Linked DNA regions of Homo sapiens. The protein of the gene in region 2 interacts with the protein of the main gene of each other region in a pairwise test. Each region holds a gene or a part of one and is shown on either strand. Other genes may lie near its edges.

Region 1 (7,388 bases), on a different chromosome or scaffold from region 2:
TGGTCTGTAACCCATTACATCAATTTCAAAATCCTCTAAGGAGCTGCTAACCGGGTGTGAAAAACACCTAAATATGGGATAGAATCCCTAAAATCAATATTTCCCCAAGAGTTTCTTATATTTCAGATGTACGAGTAATATCTACGCCTATCAATGCCTACCACCACCACTGGTAAACAAGATAACTCTAGAAGAAACTTGGATATATTTATATTTTTAAACTAGTTATATATTTTTACTAGTATTAGTTTTTAGTTATCTTCCATTTTAGGAAATTGATACTGATTTTCCACTTACGGGAATGATTTAAAGTTTTCTCCTAAAATAAATGTACTTAAATTTAAAAAGCAATTTAAGGAAAAACATTAATAAACAGCATAGGAAATATTCAGACATGTTGAAAATCACAAATACGTGTCTCATGTATCTGAAGTGTGGGAAACTATCTGGCACCATTCTATCATGATAGAACAAGAAATGGACGTTCCTTCACATTAGATCTGCTTTTGCGCAGCTCTACTAATTACTCCCAGAACGTTAGGTTACATGACATGATATTAGTTTACATTTGGCTTTTCCCCAGCAGCCGCTTAAACCTGGGAGGTCCTTTTTCCAAGCACTTGGGCAGTTTCGAGTTTGGCATCCTTTTGCACAGTGATTTGTGTGGATCTTGAGATGCTGTGAGCTTGCCATCCCTTCTTGAGATCATCACGTGGTCTGTCTTTCTCTGTCAGGCTTTCAAGTTAATTATTTCCTGTTTTTCTGAGTCTGTTCCTTATCCCCCTTCCCAGGCCACCCTCTACCCTCACCTTCACCTCCCCCCAGCAGTTCTACAGAAAATCAGTCTTTGTCTCTTGGCCTGCCCTAGAACACCTTCCAACAAGAGCCTTGGAGTTAATTAAATGTGTGGCAATTTCAGAGCAAAAATTTATTACTGGGTACAATCAGAAATTACTTTTAGAGTTCTTTGCTTTTTGGTAACATTCTCTGTCACTTACTGACCTTTTGTTCTCAGTCCCTGCCTGCTTAAGGTACTGTGTGAACCAATCTGCCCAAGCTGTTTTCTCTCTGTGTGACTGCTTAAGATCTCTGGCATGAGTTATACTGTCACTCCTCTCAGGAACTCCCACGTTGGGCTTGATTTTCCCAGCAAACTTGATCTGTTGTTCATGTAACATTGTTTCTGCTGCTGTCCCATTCCTTCTCATCAAGGCCAGAGCCCCCTCCTCCTGTTGTCTTTAACAAGGCAGGGTGCTAAACTGAGCTGAGCTGCACCCCCACAGAAGCTTTGTGCAAAGAAGCCACTCCATTTCTTCAATCTTTGCATCCTCATCCCATCCCCATGCCCAGAAATCTTCCCAAACTAGCCTTTTATGGTCATCCAGCCTTAATTTCTCTTTTCTTCCAAATCCCAGCTAAGTTTTGTCTTAAGTCTCTAACTGGGTTTGGTTACATTGTTCAATGTCCTTTCCCCCCAGTAACCCCCCTGCCATCCTAGTTTTCTCTCCCCTATTAGCTCCTCCTAAGCACGCATCTGAACTCCTTAAATCTTTTACCTAGTGTAGTTTCCTGGTCATCTCCTTTTAGCCCACTACAAATTGAAGTGTAAAAAACCCTTACAATAAACATGTGTGCGTGCACACGCATGCATGGTATATACGTACACATTTAAACTAGGAGAAAGGATATAAACACAAAATAGACTGTCCAGTACTATTTGGGGGTGGGAGGTGGAGAAGAGCCCTAGGCCCTAGAAGTTCCCCTGGGGTTCTTATTAATATGTTGAACATATTTCACCCTGCAACCCAAATCTGTACCACTTTCGTACACAGCTTAAACAAAGAAGAGTCTTGATGCTTATTGAGGATTTAGATAACTACTTCCCGTTAAGAAGATATTTTTAAAATTGTGTTTTCATTATGACTCCATCTCCATTTATTGATCGAGGGATTTCTTGCCTCACTTAACTCCATAATCTGTTACTCAGATTAAGAAAATGAGAAAACTATTGTTTGGTAGTTTGAGTACAGGCTTTAAAGTGATACTTTGGAGGCTGGATGATTCAAGTACTATAATCCAAGAAAAGCAACTAAATGATCATGCAGAACGTGTTTTTATGCATTACTCTTTATCGATTAGGCATGCAAGGAAATGAATCGGATTAAATGTTTCGTAGATGTGCTCTGTTATAGTACAGAAACTTCCTAGTGTAAAAACATCCAACAGAAAGCACTAAGAGATAGGAAATAATACATGTAAAATGCAAATGTGTAAGTCATTCAACACATTTTGAGTATCATGTTTTTTTATGTAAAAAACAATGTTACGTATAGTAAATTCTCCGCTATTAGGAGCAGAAAAGTACCCTCTATTTTGGCACTTCCCTTCTTCCGCCACCATTAGCTAGTATACAGCTGTACATATGTGCTTTTGGGGTGAATGTGAAACCTGTATATTCACTGTTTACCTTCGACCCTCTACTTTGCCAGCTTTTTGTCCACTTTATTCCTTATTAATTCTTCCTCCCGGGGACTAAAGGGGAAGGGAAAAGGAGGTGAACTTGGAGTCAGTCAGGCATGCTTAGTGACCAGAACAGTTCAATTTCGTTTTTTCTAAATTTTAATTAATTAATTTATTTTTGAGACAGGGTCTTGCTATGTTGCCCAGGCTAGTCTCCAACTCCCGGGCTCAAGCTATCCACCTGCCTTGGCCTCCCAAACTGCTGGGATTATAGATGTGAGCAACTGTATCAGGCCAATAGTTCAATTTCTATACAATAAACTTGAAAGACCCGTCCAAATTATTTTATATCATTTAAGATTTTTTTCCATCCAACTGATTAAATAACTCTGTCAATTAAAGCTTGGACATCTTGAAATTGATATTTTGGTTGTTAACAGTTATTGCAACAGTATTTGACCTGTCTCTGGAAGATTTTGTAAAGAAGTAAAATTCGCTGTAGGAATCTATCTGGGGAAGAAAGGGAACTATAATTTGCTCTGTACCTGTTACATGAGAGAATCTGAACTGTGCAGTGTACACTGTTTTATCCTTTTATGGTTTACAATTACCCAGAAAAGTGAGTAAAATGCCCGTTTTACAGATGTGGAGGCTGAGGTTCAGAGATACTGACCAGTCTCTCGGTTTATAAGGAAAACCATGGCTAACAGCCTCCAGAGCACAAGCCCTTTACAAAGGAGGGTTGGAGATTGCAGGCAGCTTTTACTTATCTATGCTGCCCACGCTTAACATGGAAAACTGAAAGCTGACCTTGTGTTCCTTTAAAAAATCTCCAAGGAAGTCGGCTGCAGAGACTTCATGGTAACTCATGAGAAACAAAATGCTTTTGTGGATTAACAACTGTCTTTATTCCAATGGAGTTTTTTGGGGGTTTTTTCTTCTTCTTAAAGACAAAAAAATAATCTACCGCTGACACTCAACAAGAACCGTCGTAGAATGGACAAGTCTTCGGATCGCGCTGTGCAGATCCCTCAGCAAATTGTGACAGTATTATGGCACTTTGGCCTAAGCTGTTAAAGAGACGATGTAATGAACAGCTGCGGATTTCTGAGGCACAATTGTGTGACACAGGAAGCCCAAGTGTTGGCCATCCTCAACGAAGGCAGCTGCCGGGCTCCGGTTTGCTTCAGCAAACCCTCACCCCTCGCCTTCAACCAGGCGGGTGTCGTCAGCTGTCCGCCAGCTGCTGCCCGCGCCTTTCCGCCCCCGCGCGCCGGCCAAGGCCGAGGCGGCCGGGACCAGAGGCGCGCGCCCTCAGTGCATGTGACGGGGTGGGAGGGGGAGGTTTCTTCCTCCCCCGTCCCCAAGCCCCGCCTTCTCCAGAGAGGCTGCGGCTTCCTATTGCGCCACCACCGAAATGACCACCGTGCCAGCCAATCAAGACGTGATTCATGAAGTAAGACCCGCCCCTTACTGGTCCCCAGGTTCCTTCCCGCTCACGCCGGAGTCACTTCCGAAGAGAGAACCGCCATGAAGAGAGAAGGGGGTGCCGCCCACCTCTGCTCCGACAGCCTCCCGGAGTCCCAGCAGCAAGACGGCAACCACGCACCCAACTTCTCCAGCCACGGCTCATGCCGCCGTCGCCAGCGGCGCCGACATGACAAGGCGCTGCATGCCCGCTAGGCCAGGTTTCCCCTCATCCCCAGCCCCGGGGTCGTCGCCCCCGCGCTGCCATCTGAGACCCGGTAGTACCGCCCATGCTGCAGCGGGAAAGAGAACAGAGAGTCCTGGGGACAGGTACCGTGCAGAGGGCTTGAGAAGGGGCCGGGTCGCGGGGGCAAGGGTATGAGGGGAGGGCTGCAGACCGCCGCTCTTCCAGTTCCCGCCATCCTCCGCGAGCTCAGGCGTTGGCATTTCGGGGCCTGGCAAATCCCCGCCCCGCCTCCGCGCAGGGGCTACTGGGAGTTGGAGTTTGCTTCTCTGTAGTTGGGCAGCTGCTCTTGGTCTAGTGACCACCAGCCTGGACAGCTACGGAGAACCCGCCTTAGGTAGAAAGAAAGTGATTTTTTTCCTTTGCAAGAGTTTGACCCGGGACCCTAACTGCTTAATGCATATTTAGATCGTTTTCTGTACGTTGTCAGTTCTACTGATCCTAGTGGTTTAGTAATATAAACCTTTTCTATGTTGTGGGTGAAATTATGTAACCTGTGATGAGGGAATCCCTTCCACGAATTACTTTGTAGTCCAGCGTGCACGCTAGTTCATACTTAAAAGAACTTGCAGATTTGGAATGTGACGTGTTTTCTCTTTCAGTAACTTCACGCCTCTCCAAGAGGCTAATTTTTTTGTAAAGATTTTGTGGGAGCTATGTAATGAGATGGGGAGTTTCATCTAATGACATCCTCTGACAATAAAACATGTTTAAATTCCCTACGAACTTGGTACTGTCTTTTATTTTAAGTTAAATTGTATTAAGTTTTAACAATATTCATGTTACTAATACTGTGGTACAGGCCCACAATCCCTTATCTTAACTCTGAAAGCCAGAAAGCTATGAAAACCAAAACGTTTTCAGTAAGTTTGGCACCACATCTTACTGGGCAGCCAGATCTGACTAAAACTAATGTAAGGCTGTTTGTGGTCTTTATCCCATTAAGTGTGAATATTCATGTTTTGCTGGAGAAATGTCAGTGGATTTGATTACAGGTTGCAGCACCAGACCCCACTGGGGACTTTCCATAATACATCCAAGTTATCCCCTTCCTAAAATCTGATAAATTCAGAATTCTAAAACACATTTGGCCCCAGAAGGTTCAGATAAGGGTTTGTGAAACTGTTATAATTGTGTGTGTGTGTGTGTTTTTTTTTAAGCCAGTTGTTAAATAAGCAGTGGACATTTTGTGTGCATATGAACTTAGAGAACCTACCTCTTGAAAGTTACATTCATGGTTATTTTACAGGTTTCTTGTATGTTTTACCCAAAATCATTTTTTCTCTTTCTGGTGTATTAATCAAAAAGGAGTCTGAGGTCCAATATTTTAGGGAAGAGATACAGTGTTACATTTAGTAAAATGCATTTAGAATTATCTTGTGTGCAACAAATGAGCTGCTTCTGGGTCCCTTCCCATCTCTCCTCAATCAATAACAAGATCAATAACAAGGTATCATCCTTCTTCCCTTTGCAGAACCTCCAACATTTACTCTGGTGGAGTTAATTTGCCTAGTATAATTTATGTAAACAAATGCATATATTCTTCCATAGCCCGTCACTCATATTCATCTCATAAGCACTTAGCTTTTATACCAGCATCTCAAACAAGCGTGATGGACTTGGTAAACCAGTAAAGATGTGCATTGCTCTTCTAATGTGACCAGTAAAGTGTACAAGAAGCTTAACCTTCAAGAAACTTGGATTGTTGGAATTTTCACTGAGCATTCCAACCTCATAGTGGATGAATGTTTAGGGAAATCAATAGTCTATAGCTTATTCTCTTTCAGTAAAATGATACATTTTAGCAAAATTTACCAGAAAGTTAATTTTTTGTTCAGCATATCATAACATCCCCTTTTTTGCAGCTGACAACTCTACAGTGAACAAATCAGAATACGAATTCTGGTAATGGATTCCTATTTCACTTTAGCATTATTGCCAATGTCAGAACTTGATTAGTTAAGCCAGATAATGAAATCCAGTCTTTACGGTACAGAAATTCTTAAAAATTAATTTGGTTTTTGTTATTCTTGTTAACTTTCTTCCTTTTCTCCTTGTGTTTTTCCCAAGCAATGTGTTATTTTTGTAACTATCTTAAGGATTCTTTGATAAAAAATTAAGAATTTGAAACTAGTTGTGACAACTCATTCTAATTTCTGCTGTTACTTAGATTAACATCTTAATGTATAAAGAGGGTAGCATAAGTTTGGTATTTTTCTTTTCTGCCCTTGTCCAGCAAACTCCTCTTCAACTGATTCCCTAGATCAGCCAAATCACCTGTATTGCCATTCTACCATCTACTGTTCTACTCTTGTTATGAGAGTCTGTTCAAGTTTTACTCCATTTTTATAATCCCCATTATTCATTTGGCATACATCTATTGAGTTTTTTTTTAGCTTGTTATTCTAAATTTTAAAACGCAGCTGTGCTTAGATACCAAGTAATTATTTTGTATCAATGTCTGCAGAGAACAAGTAGGTTCATATGCTGATACCCAAGATGTTGCATTCTACCATGTAGCCGTGAACATTTCAGTCTTAAGAAGCACTCTGTACTAATTCCTTGGGTCTACACACCAGTCTGACCTATTTAAGTACTATAAATAATATAAACCTCAGTTGTATTTTTATAAATGAACTCCTATAGGAAGTGATACGTTATATTTTCTGTTTTTTTAATGAACAGTTTAGCAAAGCATTGTTACCATTGTCAGAACTTTATTAAACCAAATAGTGAAATCCAGCCTTTATTTTATAAATCTTTCTCCATTTAATCTGAGTTATGAAGGTTTTAATATTTGCTTATATGATGCCATATTATGCTTTTATTTTCAGGAAGCAGTCAATTATAGATTTCTTCAAACCAGCTTCAAAACAAGGTATGTACACTGTTGATGCATTTTTTGTGGGCTATTTTGGGGGTGAGGAGAGAGACAGATTCAACTTTAAAACCTACTCTAAACTGTTTTAGTAAACGTAGTGTTCAAAATTGAAAATAAAATGAAGATGCAGTATTTTGTTTTACAAGGATAAACTGAAGTTCTAAATATGAAAGTCTTTTTGCTGTTATGTTTTCTTACATTTAAAATATTATTCTAGTAAAAAATTTAATGTTCATAATACATACTATTTTGATTCTCTAATACAGTAATTTATAGAGCCATAGGGAGGTTATATGATGTACCAAAAGAGAGCTTTATGAAACTAAGGCTTTTAAC
Region 2 (7,516 bases):
TACTAGGCTGGGTGCAGTGGCTTACGCCTATAATCCCAGCACTTTGGGAGGCCAAGGCAAGTGGATCACCTGAGGTCAGGAGTTTGAGACCAGCCTGGCCAACATGGTGAAACCCCGTCTCTGCTAAGAATACAAAAATCAGCTGGGTGTGGTGGCACGCATCCATAGGCCCAGCTATTCAGGAGGTTGAGGCAGGAGAATCACTTGAACCTGGGAGACGGAGGTTGCAAGTGAGCCGAGATCGCACCACTGCATTCCAGCCTGGGTAACAGAGTGAGACTCCGTCTCAAATGAATGAATGAATAAATAAATAATAAATTCTTACTAATTCATGATTTGATTGCAAAATTTTATCTTTCTTTTCTCTGAATCATAGAATCTTTCCTTTCTTAGGTTAAAAATGCTGAATTTCCCAGAGGTGTATTAAATTTAATTGAAAGCCTCATAGAAGGACATTTTTTTAAAGAAGCAATTGAGGAACTTTCCACTTTGCAGGCACATTATATCCCTCCTGTATGCGTTCTTCATGCCCTTCTAGAGAACGTTCTACAGGTAAGAGCAGCCTTAAGGATTTATAATCTTTTTTTCAAAGAATGTTAAAATGTGAACATTTTCTCACTTTTTGTATGTTTACAGTTTATTTTCCCTGTTCAGTGTTTTTTTTTCTTCATTTCACTAATGCAGTACCCATTTATTACTACTGTTCTGTTTTCCAGCTACATACTAGGTACTACTCTTAGTGCTTTAGCTAATGATTTTCTCAGGATTTCTAAGATAATTTTGTTTTGGGGAAAAAGGTTATCTAATTTTTCTCACGGCAGTAAAGTATCAAATATAAAATTCAGATTATGGTGATCTAGAATTACATTTGGTAAATTACTCCATTAGTACATTGATGATTATCATTTTTATTTATAGTATACATAATGAACATACTCTTTGTTTAAAAAGAAATAGAGGCAAGTTCCCTCTCTGTTGTCCAGGCTGGACTGCAGTGGTGTGATCATGGCTCACTGTGGCCTCAACCTCCTGGGCTCAAGTAGTCCCCCTGCTTCAGCCTCCCAAGTAGCTGGGACTGTAGGCGCATGCCACCATGCCTGGCTAATTTTTAAATTTTTTGTAGAGATGGAGTCTTGCTATGTTGCCCATGCTGGGAACATACCCAAACTGTGTAAACCAATAGGAACAAATATTCAAAGATCGCTTTCTAATCATGCCCTTCACCAAGGTGCTAATTTGATAACATAACAGGCATAAGCTTTGTCAGGTATGTTATGTTGGTGATAAGTAAGCATGTTGCATGAATAGTTTGTTACTTTTAGTTCCTTTCAGGTAACATTTGAGACCTCTTAAATCTCACTATAATTGTGAAAAGGAAAATGTGTATTCCATCTAAGGTAGTGTTAATAGAAGGGATTACCCAATGTATAGATAGAGTCATCCCTTGCTGTCACAGGATATTGGTTTCAGGACCTTTGTGGATACTGAAATCTGCACATAATCAAGTCCTGCAGTTGCTTCTTCAGAACCTGCACTTATAGGAAAAGTCAGCCCTCCACATACGAAGGTTTTACATCCTGTGAATACTGTATTTTTAAAGGTTTTTCTTTTAGAGGTAATTGTAAAATTTTCCCTTACTACTAGGGAAAAAAATTTCCTTCACTACTGAAGGCAATAGAAAATAATTAATACAATAACTAATAAGATACAGTCATACATATCATCCTCTTTGAACTACATAATCTCATTCAGCAGCAAGGGCAGGAATTATCTTTATTTTACAGGTGAGGAAATTAAAACTTCTTAGTAGGCCGGGTGCTGTGGCTCACACCTGTAATTCCAGCACTTTCAGAGGCCGAGGCCTCCCAAATACAGAATACTGTATTTAATTGCAGTTGTAGAACCTATGGACGTGAAGGGTAGGCTGCATTTATTGGAAAAAAATTCATGTGTAAGTGGACCCATGCAGTTAAAACCTGTTATTCAGGTATCAGCTGTACATAGAGTGTGCCTGTCTCTCAGTTGCTTTATTTAATTAGCTAAACATGATGCTTCCATCTGCTCTCCTTTGTCTAAACACGTATATTTGGCAAGAAACTTAGGCCAGCGTTAGGCCGGGCGTGGTGGCTCACACCTGTAATCCCAGCACTTTGGGAGGCTGAGGTGGGCAGATCACAAGGTCGGGAGTTCAAGACTAGCCTGGCCAACATAGTGAAATCCCATCTCTACTAAAAATACAAAAATTAGCCAGGCATGGTGGTGGGTGCCTGTAGTCCCAGCTACTTACTCAGGAGGCTGAGGCAGAAAAATCGCTTGAACCCAGGAGGCGGAGGTTGAGGTAAGCCAAGATCGTGCCACTGCACTCCAGCCTGGGTGACAGAGCCAGACTCCGTCTCAAAAAAGAAAGTTAGGCCAGGGTTACTGTTTTGGTTTTAGACTGAATTAGAGAGTCAAACTACTTTTAGCTATAGTGTTTTATTTGTTTGTTTATTTTTAAATAATAGGATAACATAGATACATTTTCTGGTCGATACTTTCATATATTGTCAGCTCTTCTTCACCTGCATCCTCCTTGGAAGTCTCCAGCCATGTCGAGATATTATTTAGAGTTGTTTCAGTGTCCAACTTGTATGAAAGGAGCATGGTCTTTAGTAGAAGTCCTTATCAGGTAAGGAATTTCACATTTGACGATGCTACATTTCATTGAGTAGTTGTTATGCTAATTATTTTTTTAAGATACTGATGAAAGAAGTATCTTTCTACTTTTGGAAAAGTTTTGTTGCAAATACAAATATGTATTGTATTTATTGCAAAACTTATGAAAAGGCAAATCTATATTGGTCATGTTTTTCAGTCTGTTTCCTAAAAAAATAAAAAATGAATGCATGAAATGGACTCACTAGAAAGCCAAATCATTATTATTTTTAACAAAATAGAAATTTGTGTATTGTTTTTTAAATGAAGAAAATTAATTTATGGAATATGCATATCATCAGTTTTTGTCACCAAAAGTGTAGACATTTGTAACTATAGTATCTATTTTAGGGCTTCAGTTATATTTTTTTCAGCTAGAAATTTGAATTTTAAAACAGAACTTAATATTTCCTAAATATGTCATCTCTTTTATGCTTCTGCACATGCTGTCACTGCCTAGACCTTCCTCTGTCTTTCAGTTGTTAGTGTCTCCAGAAATTCTGTTTCACCTTCTTTCTCCCTAACAGAAAATGTTTTCCCCTTGCTATTCAAATAACTGTATTTGATAACCCTTATTCTTCTGGGAAGATCTTTTCTTTTTTTGAGACATGAGTCTCGCTCTGTCACCCAGGCTGGAGTGCAGTGGCCTGATCTTGGCTCACTGTAACCTCTACCTCCCAGGCTCAAGCAATTCTTATGCCTTAGCCTTCCAAGTAGCTAGAGTTACAGGCATGTGCCTCCACGTCCAGCTAATTTTTGTATTTTTTCATTTTTAGTAGAGATGGGCTTTTACCATGTTGGCCAGGCTGGTCTCGAATTGCTGGCCTCAAGTGATCTGCCTGACTTGGGCTCCCAAAGTCCTGGGATTATAGGAGTGGACCATCACGCCTGGCTGGGAAGATCTTTTTTTTTTTTTTTTTTTTTTTAATTTAAGTGTCCAGTTTCAGGAGGTTCATAGTGGAGAAAGGACACCTGACTAGCCATGCAAAGGCTAGACCTCTGGTTAGCTCTTTGAGATCATAAAGATTCACATACCATCTTGGTTGTGATATATTTAAAGTGAGCTAATCAGTTAACCAGCATGCATTTATTCATTCTTTTAACAAATTCTTGAGTACTTACGGAGAGCCAGACACTGTACTACATTTTAGGGATTAAAAAGATGATTTAAATAACAGTTCCTGCACTTTGAAAGTGACTGAGATGTAAACAATACCGCACAAAAGTACAAGCCCAACAGTACAAGCCCAGCATAGGTATATGATGTGAGAAAATAGAGTTTATGTGGCTGACATCCTTCATAATTTCCAAATCTATTCCTTTCTTCACTGTCAATTGTCTTTATTTTAAAGTTCCTGTTTCTTCTTATATAAACTATTGCAGTAGCTGCTTTATTGATCTTGGGTCTACTTTTTTCCTTTTAATTTTTCTTCCAAAGTACCCCCCCACAGTATGCTCTTTCCAAAGTGATCTTGTCATTTCCCATATTAAAGTCCTTCATTGACTCACATACATTGAACTACCTATAGAAGATGGTTCAGATTTCTTAGCGAAATACGTAAGACCCTTCATGAGTTAGCCCTTATATATGTCTCAGTTCTCATCTTCACCACTTTCTTGAATGTGTCCAATAGTTATTTTCCATATCCTGTCTTTTGCTCTTATGTTTTCCGAATTTCCTAGCTTTTTTGTTTGTTTGTTTGTTTTGTTTTGTTTTGTTTTTTAAGACACTCTGTTGCCCAGACTGGAGTGCAATGGCACAATCACGGCTCACTGCAGCCTGAAACTCCCAGGCTCAGGTGATCCTCCCGCCTCAGCCTCCTGAATAGCTGGGACTACAGGCATGTGCTCCCACGCCTGGCTAGTTTTGTATTTTTTGTAGAAATGGGGTTTTACCATGTTTCCCAGGCTGGTCTCCACCACTTGAGCTCAAGTTTTCTGCCCGCCTCAGCCTCCCAAAGTGCCAGGATTAAAGGCATGAGCCACCATGCCTCACTGCTTCGTTTCACTTCTCTTCTCTCTTCTCTCCTCTCTCCTCTCCTCTCTTCTCCTTTGTCCCTTGTCTTCACTTTTCTTCCTTTCCCTTTTCCCTTTTCTTTTCTCTTCTTTCCTTTTCAAATCTCACTGTCACCAAGGACAGTGTGCAGTGGCGGGATCATAGCTCACTGCAATCTTGAGCTCCTGGGTTCAGGCCACTCTCCTGCCTCAGCCTCCTGAGTACCTGGGACTACAGGTGCCCACCACCACACCTGGCCAATTTTGTTGTTGTGGTTGTGGTTGTAGTTTGTTTGTTTGTTTTTTGAGAAGAAGTTTCGCTCTGTTGCCCAGGCTGGAGTGCAGTGGTGCGATCTCGGCTCACTGCAACCTCCGCCTCGCAGGATCAAGCGATTCTCCTGCCTCAGCCTCCCAAGTAGCTGGGATTACAGGCATGCGCCACCACGCCTTGCTGATTTTTTTTTGTATTTGGTAGAGATGGAGTTTTACCATGTTGGTCAGGCTGGTCTCAAACTCCTGACCTTAGGTGATCCACCCGCCTCCACTTCCCAAAGTGCTGGGATTACAGGCATGAGCTACTGTGCCAGGCCTACATGACTAATTTTTAAATTTTTTGTAGAGGTGAAGTCTCCCTGTGTTGCCCAGGCTGGTCTCAAATTCCTGGGCTCAAGCAATCCTCCTACCTTGTCCTCCCAAAGCACTGGGATTACAGGAATGGGCCACCATGCTCAGCCATAGTTTTCCCTTAAAATGCAATTTAGCTGCCACTTTCTTACTCTTGACCTTTCCTTTAAGTTTGTCATTCACATCAGGCCTATGACTTTCTTAAAGAGAGGTGCTCAGTCTTGTTTTTCTTTCTTTAAACTTCCCTCTTACAGAAGGTGTTCAGTCTTAAATATCTCCATCCTTAATATCTAATATAATGCCTGGAATGTAAGTACTTAATAAAGGTTTGGATGAATTTATTGATGCTGTAGGTGATAGATTTTGGGCAGCTTAAAAATAGACTTTTAAACAAAAATACCCAGATTTCATTTCAAAATAATGGGGTACTGTGGAGGTGCTTAGGGAAGTGGTAGGAATATGAATGAGCTAAGTAATACTAGTCTCTACTTTTGTATATATTTGAAATATTCCATAATGCATAGAGAAACGTAAGTTCTCTATCTCTGACAGTTTTCAGAAAGACTGATTAACTATGTGGGCATGAAGGATCTTATAGATAGATTGAATATTAAATAAATTGTTAAAGCTACTAAGGACTCTCCTGAGAATGTTGTATTAAAAAAGAAGACAGCGGAAGTGGAGACAGAGGTAGAAAGTTATAAGTGCATTGTTGATATAATCAATAAGAAAAGTGGGAGATTGTAATAAATAGTGTTACCTAGACACTATTTCTTAAATCCTAGAGTTCTGAGTAATCTTCTATTCTCTTTAGAAATATATTATAGAAGTGTGCTGTCTGACCCAATAGCCACTAGCCATATCTATTTATATTTAAATTTTATTCAGACAAAGTAATTAAAAATGTGGGTCCTTGGGTATACAAGCCACATTTCAAGTGTCTAGTAGAACATATACATCATCACAGAAAGTTCAGTTGGAGAGGACTGCTCTAGAAGACAGAAAGAAAATAAAATAATGAATATTAAAAACGCTAAAAAAGTAGCCCTAAATAATCTTCATTTACTAACTAATGAAAAAGAAAGTAATCTTGGGTAAGAAAGAGGAGGATTCTGGCGAGTATTATAAATTGAGAGGTTAGCTGGTCATTTAAATCAAAAGGACTTAATGAAATCTATAATCTTTGTTCTCATCAGTGAAATAAAGAGCACAAAGGGAGAGTACCTGCTAGTCATTAAATATTATAATAACTTGAAAAATTGAGAAATTAGATCTATTTATTAAGAATTAAGTACTCATGAGATATTTGACATTGTTTAATTTTTGAAGGAAGAAATATATTCATAAAATTTTGTTGAACTTTCTATTTTAAGAAAATTTTATTAAAATTCCAGCAGTATTCTAGAAGGAGAAATATTTTGTTCACAAATGACTTAGTGAATTGCTTGTATGTTATAGATTTTTGGGTTCATGTTTTTCAGGTCTTGCCTTTTCAATGAAAGCTTTTGTCATCAAATTTCAGAAAATATTGGCTCCAAGGTGCTCCACCTGACGCTACTCAAATTTTTCTTTAATTTAATTGAAAGTGAAGTACAACATCTGAGTCAAAAGTAAGTTCTAATCGCAAGAATAACACTTTTCTAAATTTTGGTTGTTTTTATGCACCATTTTTTTTTTACAATTATTATAAATATATTTCTAAAAAGTCACCTTATTTTCTATTTTAAGATAGATTTGTTTTTAAAACATATTTCCAGATATTCTCAGTGGGAGTAAAGGTTTATATGCCCTTTTAAAAAATTTCCTCAGTTCACTTCCACTGTTCATTTGGATGGATAATAGTGTTTTCATTTTTTAGGATTTTAAAAAAATTCTTTAGTAATTGAATGCTAAGTAAAAAACTACACCAATTTTAAACACTGAGCCTACAATGGTAAGTTTTGCTCCTGCTCTAAAACTTGCAGATAGATTACTGTGTATATATACATTGTCAGTGACTTTATTGAACTGGGGCCATTTTTTATATTTTGTCCTTTATTATAATTGTTATAATCTTTATATTTTATGATCTATGTTCAAAAATTGCTAGCATTTTTTTTGACAGGAGAGATGTCAAGTAATTGTCATGATCAAATTGGCTTAAAGATATACTTTTTGTTTATATTTTAATTAGGTTGTATGACTGGTCAGATTCTCAGAATCT
Region 3 (4,052 bases), on a different chromosome or scaffold from region 2:
CTTGGGGAAGGCATGTGGAAGGAGAGCTCTGAAGCTCTTCTAAGGCTTCCTGGGCAGTGGTCTGGAGAGATAACAGCAGTGTCCCTACTGCTCCCCAGTGCTTCCTGAATGCTGTGCTGCAGTGTCTGAGCAGCACTCGACCTCTTCGGGACTTCTGTCTGAGAAGGGACTTCCGGCAAGAGGTGCCTGGAGGAGGCCGAGCCCAAGAGCTCACTGAAGGTGGGGCAACAACTCCTGCTCCCTCTGTTCAAGTCCCTTTTTCCCCAACCACTTGCAGGTCCATCTGCCACTGGTGGTGGCCCCCAACCCTTAAATCTGGCAGTTGTATCTACTTTTCCCAGTGCCTACTTTCCTAAAGGTTATTTTCTACCCTCTGAGCCACCTTTTGCTTGCCTCTTCCAGACATTAACCTTTGTTTGCCTTCCCCACTCCCATCCCAACAGCCTTTGCAGATGTGATTGGTGCCCTCTGGCACCCTGACTCCTGCGAAGCTGTGAATCCTACTCGATTCCGAGCTGTCTTCCAGAAATATGTTCCCTCCTTCTCTGGATACAGGTGGGAGAGCTGGAGGCTATGGGATTTCTCTCTGGCCATGTCTGGGGGTAGGGCCAAGCAAGGGCCCTGGCAGCATTGTTCTGAGCCTTGAGATGTTCTTCATCCAGGAAGTGGGGACCAATATCTGGGCAGGGAATAGTGTCTGTGGACTAGGAGAGGAGTCAGTTGCCCATACTCTTTGTCTGGCTGTAGCCAGCAGGATGCCCAAGAGTTCCTGAAGCTCCTCATGGAGCGGCTACACCTTGAAATCAACCGCCGAGGCCGCCGGGCTCCACCGATACTTGCCAATGGTCCAGTTCCCTCTCCACCCCGCCGAGGAGGGGCTCTGCTAGAAGAACCTGAGTTAAGGTAAGGGTCGTTCCCTCTACCTCCTTTCCCCGTAGTTTATCAGCATCATTCACACTTCATAGAACTAAACTAGTAAAGATTGAAGATGTAGGGTCCAGGGAAACCCTTTAGTATAGAAAATAGTATGAGAAGCAACATAGAAGTAGAAGGAAGGAAGGAAGAGGGGGAGTCTAAGGGAGCAGATGGAGGCAGAAGATCATGCTAGGGATGTCACCAAATTGAAGAAGGGGATAATTCATTTACAGGTAGAGGAAGACAGCATATTCTTCCCTTATGTACATTCCTTTCTTTTCCTCTCACCTCGGATTTCCCTAGAAAGTTCATTGAGGCATTATTCTTTTGACTTTTCCTTGAAATTTAGGGAAGGAGCAGGGGTGTGGATGGGGAGTAGGGCTCTGTAGGTTGTTTCAGTGGGTGTTGGGGGTGCCCAGTGTTCCTGCTGTCTCATGGGTGCTCCCCACTTCCTTTGATCTGTGGTAGTGATGATGACCGAGCCAACCTAATGTGGAAACGTTACCTGGAGCGAGAGGACAGCAAGATTGTGGGTATGGAATGGGGCAAAGCAATGAGGGAAAATTAGTGTGTGAGGGGGGTACAGGCTTGGGGGGAAAAATCGATACTATCAAGGGGTATGGGAACAAGACTGGATGATGCAAATGTGAAGCTGTGTGAAGAGTTGATTAGGAGTGTTGGTAGTGGGAAAGGAAGGGTCAAGCAAAGGGGCAGGAAGAGATGGAAATCCAAGAAATCATCTCATAACATCCAACAATGACCTTTTCTCCTGTCCCTGTGCTTCTGTCTAGACCTGTTTGTGGGCCAGTTGAAAAGTTGTCTCAAGTGCCAGGCCTGTGGGTATCGCTCCACGACCTTCGAGGTTTTTTGTGACCTGTCCCTGCCCATCCCCAAGGTGGGATTCCAGAGGATTCCGGGGTGGACAGGACAGGGGCTCTGTGACCCAAGCCTACCCACCCCCAGAGTGTGGGCGGGAACCCTGTGGGTTTCTGGAGCAGAACTGAAGCCTGGATTGATTGAGAAGAGTTGGAAAAGGAAATTCAGAACATGTTGACCTTTCTTCCCCTTTTCCCCCAGAAAGGATTTGCTGGGGGCAAGGTGTCTCTGCGGGATTGTTTCAACCTTTTCACTAAGGAAGAAGAGCTAGAGTCGGAGAATGCCCCAGTATGTGGAGGTTCACAAGGGATACAGTAAGGGTGGGAGACCTGGGGGGACTCCATGTGGATAAAAGGGATTGCATGATGTCTTCATATGGGGAATAATATTTATGTATCTGGGTTTGTGTTGGAGTCTCAGATCTGTTCTAGTACTCCTAGAGCAAAGGGGAGAAGCCAAGAGGATCCAGCTGTAATGAAGAGCATACTAAATTTGTATGTGGATCGGGGTGTCAGAAAAGCCAATTGAGGTTAGGAGCATATTAACCTAACACTGTTTGCCATTTATTCAGGTGTGTGACCGATGTCGGCAGAAAACTCGAAGTACCAAAAAGTTGACAGTACAAAGATTCCCTCGAATCCTCGTGCTCCATATCCTAATCTTCAGATTCTTACTTCTCTTAGGATACCTCCCATACATTCTCTTTCCTCCATGTTTCCAGAGAATTGAATTTTCCTTAGGAAAAGTCTGCCACCCACTTTTCCACAAGATGCTCCCAGTGTGTCGGGAGTGGGGAGAGGACAGCTTTCAGGATAGAAGAAGTTCCCCTCAGAGGCCCACTGCCTCCCAAATGCTCCTTAACCAGGGCTTAGATCTGAATCGATTTTCTGCCTCCCGAGGCTCCATCAAAAAAAGTTCAGTAGGTGTAGACTTTCCACTGCAGCGACTGAGCCTAGGGGACTTTGCCAGTGACAAAGCCGGTGAGTCTGGTGGGGAAAGTCCTAAGGAGCCAAAGGAGTGGGGGCACAGCTCTGATTATAGAACTTGATCATCTCCAACCCCGCAGGAAGTCCTGTATACCAGCTGTATGCCCTTTGCAACCACTCAGGCAGCGTCCACTATGGCCACTACACAGCCCTGTGCCGGTGCCAGACTGGTTGGCATGTCTACAATGACTCTCGGTGAGAATAGCCTCCTATTTACATCCTGCCCCATTCCCACTCAGCCCTGACACCCTCCCCTTCTATGAAGCTCCAGGAGAGCAGAGTGCCAGGTGAAAGGAGAGGTGGAGGTCTTGCCTGATCATTTCCTGGATGCTCTGAGGTTCGGTCTTGTAGGGAGAAGGGAGTAAACAGGAATGACCACAACCCTTTCCCGATCTCCTTTTTTCCTAGTGTCTCCCCTGTCAGTGAAAACCAGGTGGCATCCAGCGAGGGCTACGTGCTGTTCTACCAACTGATGCAGGAGCCACCCCGGTGCCTGTGACACCTCTAAGCTCTGGCACCTGTGAAGCCCTTTAAACACCCTTAAGCCCCAGGCTCCCCGTTTACCTCAGAGACGTCTATTTTTGTGTCTTTTTAATCGGGGAGGGGGGAGGGGGTGGTTGTAGCTCCATTATTTTTTTTATTAAAAAATACCCTTCCACCTGGAGGCTCCCTTGTCTCCCAGCCCCATGTACAAAGCTCACCAAGCCCCTGCCCATGTACAGCCCCCAGACCCTCTGCAATATCACTTTTTGTGAATAAATTTATTAAGAAAAAATGATGTGCTTATTTGTATTTTTGCTTAGGGGGTGATAGAGAACTGAGCCAAATTGGAGTCTTCTTGGGACCCAAGTTCCCTCTCTAACAGGTGGGGGCGCTCTCAGAGCCGAGGGGGAAGGTTTCGGGGATGGTGCTGGACCCGGACCTGTGTCCCCCAGCAGTGAAGGTTATGTACTGGGAGGAAAAGAGGAAAGGCATACTTGAGTGAGGCTGCGTGCAGGCTCTGGGGCGACTGGTTTGGTCGGCGATGGGGGAGTGCCACTGTTGACAAACACTGGGTACGTTGCCGGGCGGCCCTAGCTCCCGTAGGCCCGGTCTGTTGCTAACATCAAGGAGCTGTTTATGGAGCCGCCTCCCCGTGGACTGGCCTTAAGTGTCCCTATCTATTCTCCCTACGACCAAAGCTCCTGCGGCCTTCCCTCTAGGGTTGTCACCCTAGCTGGACCTGGTAAGCTTGTGCTGGGGAACGCTAACTCCAGCATTAAGCGCTCGCCGCCT

Evidence for each region.
Region 1: the proteins of SLF1 (region 2) and SLF2 interact in binary tests that used the Homo sapiens proteins (3 or more experiments, as listed by UniProt).
Region 3: the proteins of SLF1 (region 2) and USP21 interact in a two-hybrid assay, tested with the Homo sapiens proteins (one study listed by BioGRID).

Annotation. Positions count from the first base shown.
Region 1 is NC_000010.11:100,908,994-100,916,381, forward strand, and holds the start of SLF2 (SMC5-SMC6 complex localization factor protein 2), read left to right. Parts: upstream 1-3,969; 5' UTR 3,970-4,117; coding exon 4,118-4,257; coding exon of another isoform or gene 4,258-4,309; exon of another isoform or gene 4,310-6,076; intron 6,077-7,005; coding exon 7,006-7,049; intron 7,050-7,388. UniProt on the Homo sapiens protein: Plays a role in the DNA damage response (DDR) pathway by regulating postreplication repair of UV-damaged DNA and genomic stability maintenance.
Region 2 is NC_000005.10:94,663,357-94,670,872, forward strand, and holds part of SLF1 (SMC5-SMC6 complex localization factor protein 1), read left to right. Parts: intron 1-393; coding exon 394-552; intron 553-2,504; coding exon 2,505-2,668; intron 2,669-6,794; coding exon 6,795-6,923; intron 6,924-7,486; coding exon 7,487-7,516. UniProt on the Homo sapiens protein: Plays a role in the DNA damage response (DDR) pathway by regulating postreplication repair of UV-damaged DNA and genomic stability maintenance.
Region 3 is NC_000001.11:161,162,172-161,166,223, forward strand, and holds the end of USP21 (ubiquitin carboxyl-terminal hydrolase 21), read left to right. Parts: intron 1-98; coding exon 99-219; intron 220-443; coding exon 444-555; intron 556-747; coding exon 748-903; intron 904-1,383; coding exon 1,384-1,448; intron 1,449-1,706; coding exon 1,707-1,810; intron 1,811-1,992; coding exon 1,993-2,079; exon of another isoform or gene 2,080-2,085; intron 2,086-2,362; coding exon 2,363-2,441; coding exon of another isoform or gene 2,442-2,663; coding exon 2,664-2,771; intron 2,772-2,857; coding exon 2,858-2,972; intron 2,973-3,185; coding exon 3,186-3,276; 3' UTR 3,277-3,552; downstream 3,553-4,052. Other genes in the region: PPOX (protoporphyrinogen oxidase), read left to right, coding at 3,897-4,002. UniProt on the Homo sapiens protein: Deubiquitinates histone H2A, a specific tag for epigenetic transcriptional repression, thereby acting as a coactivator.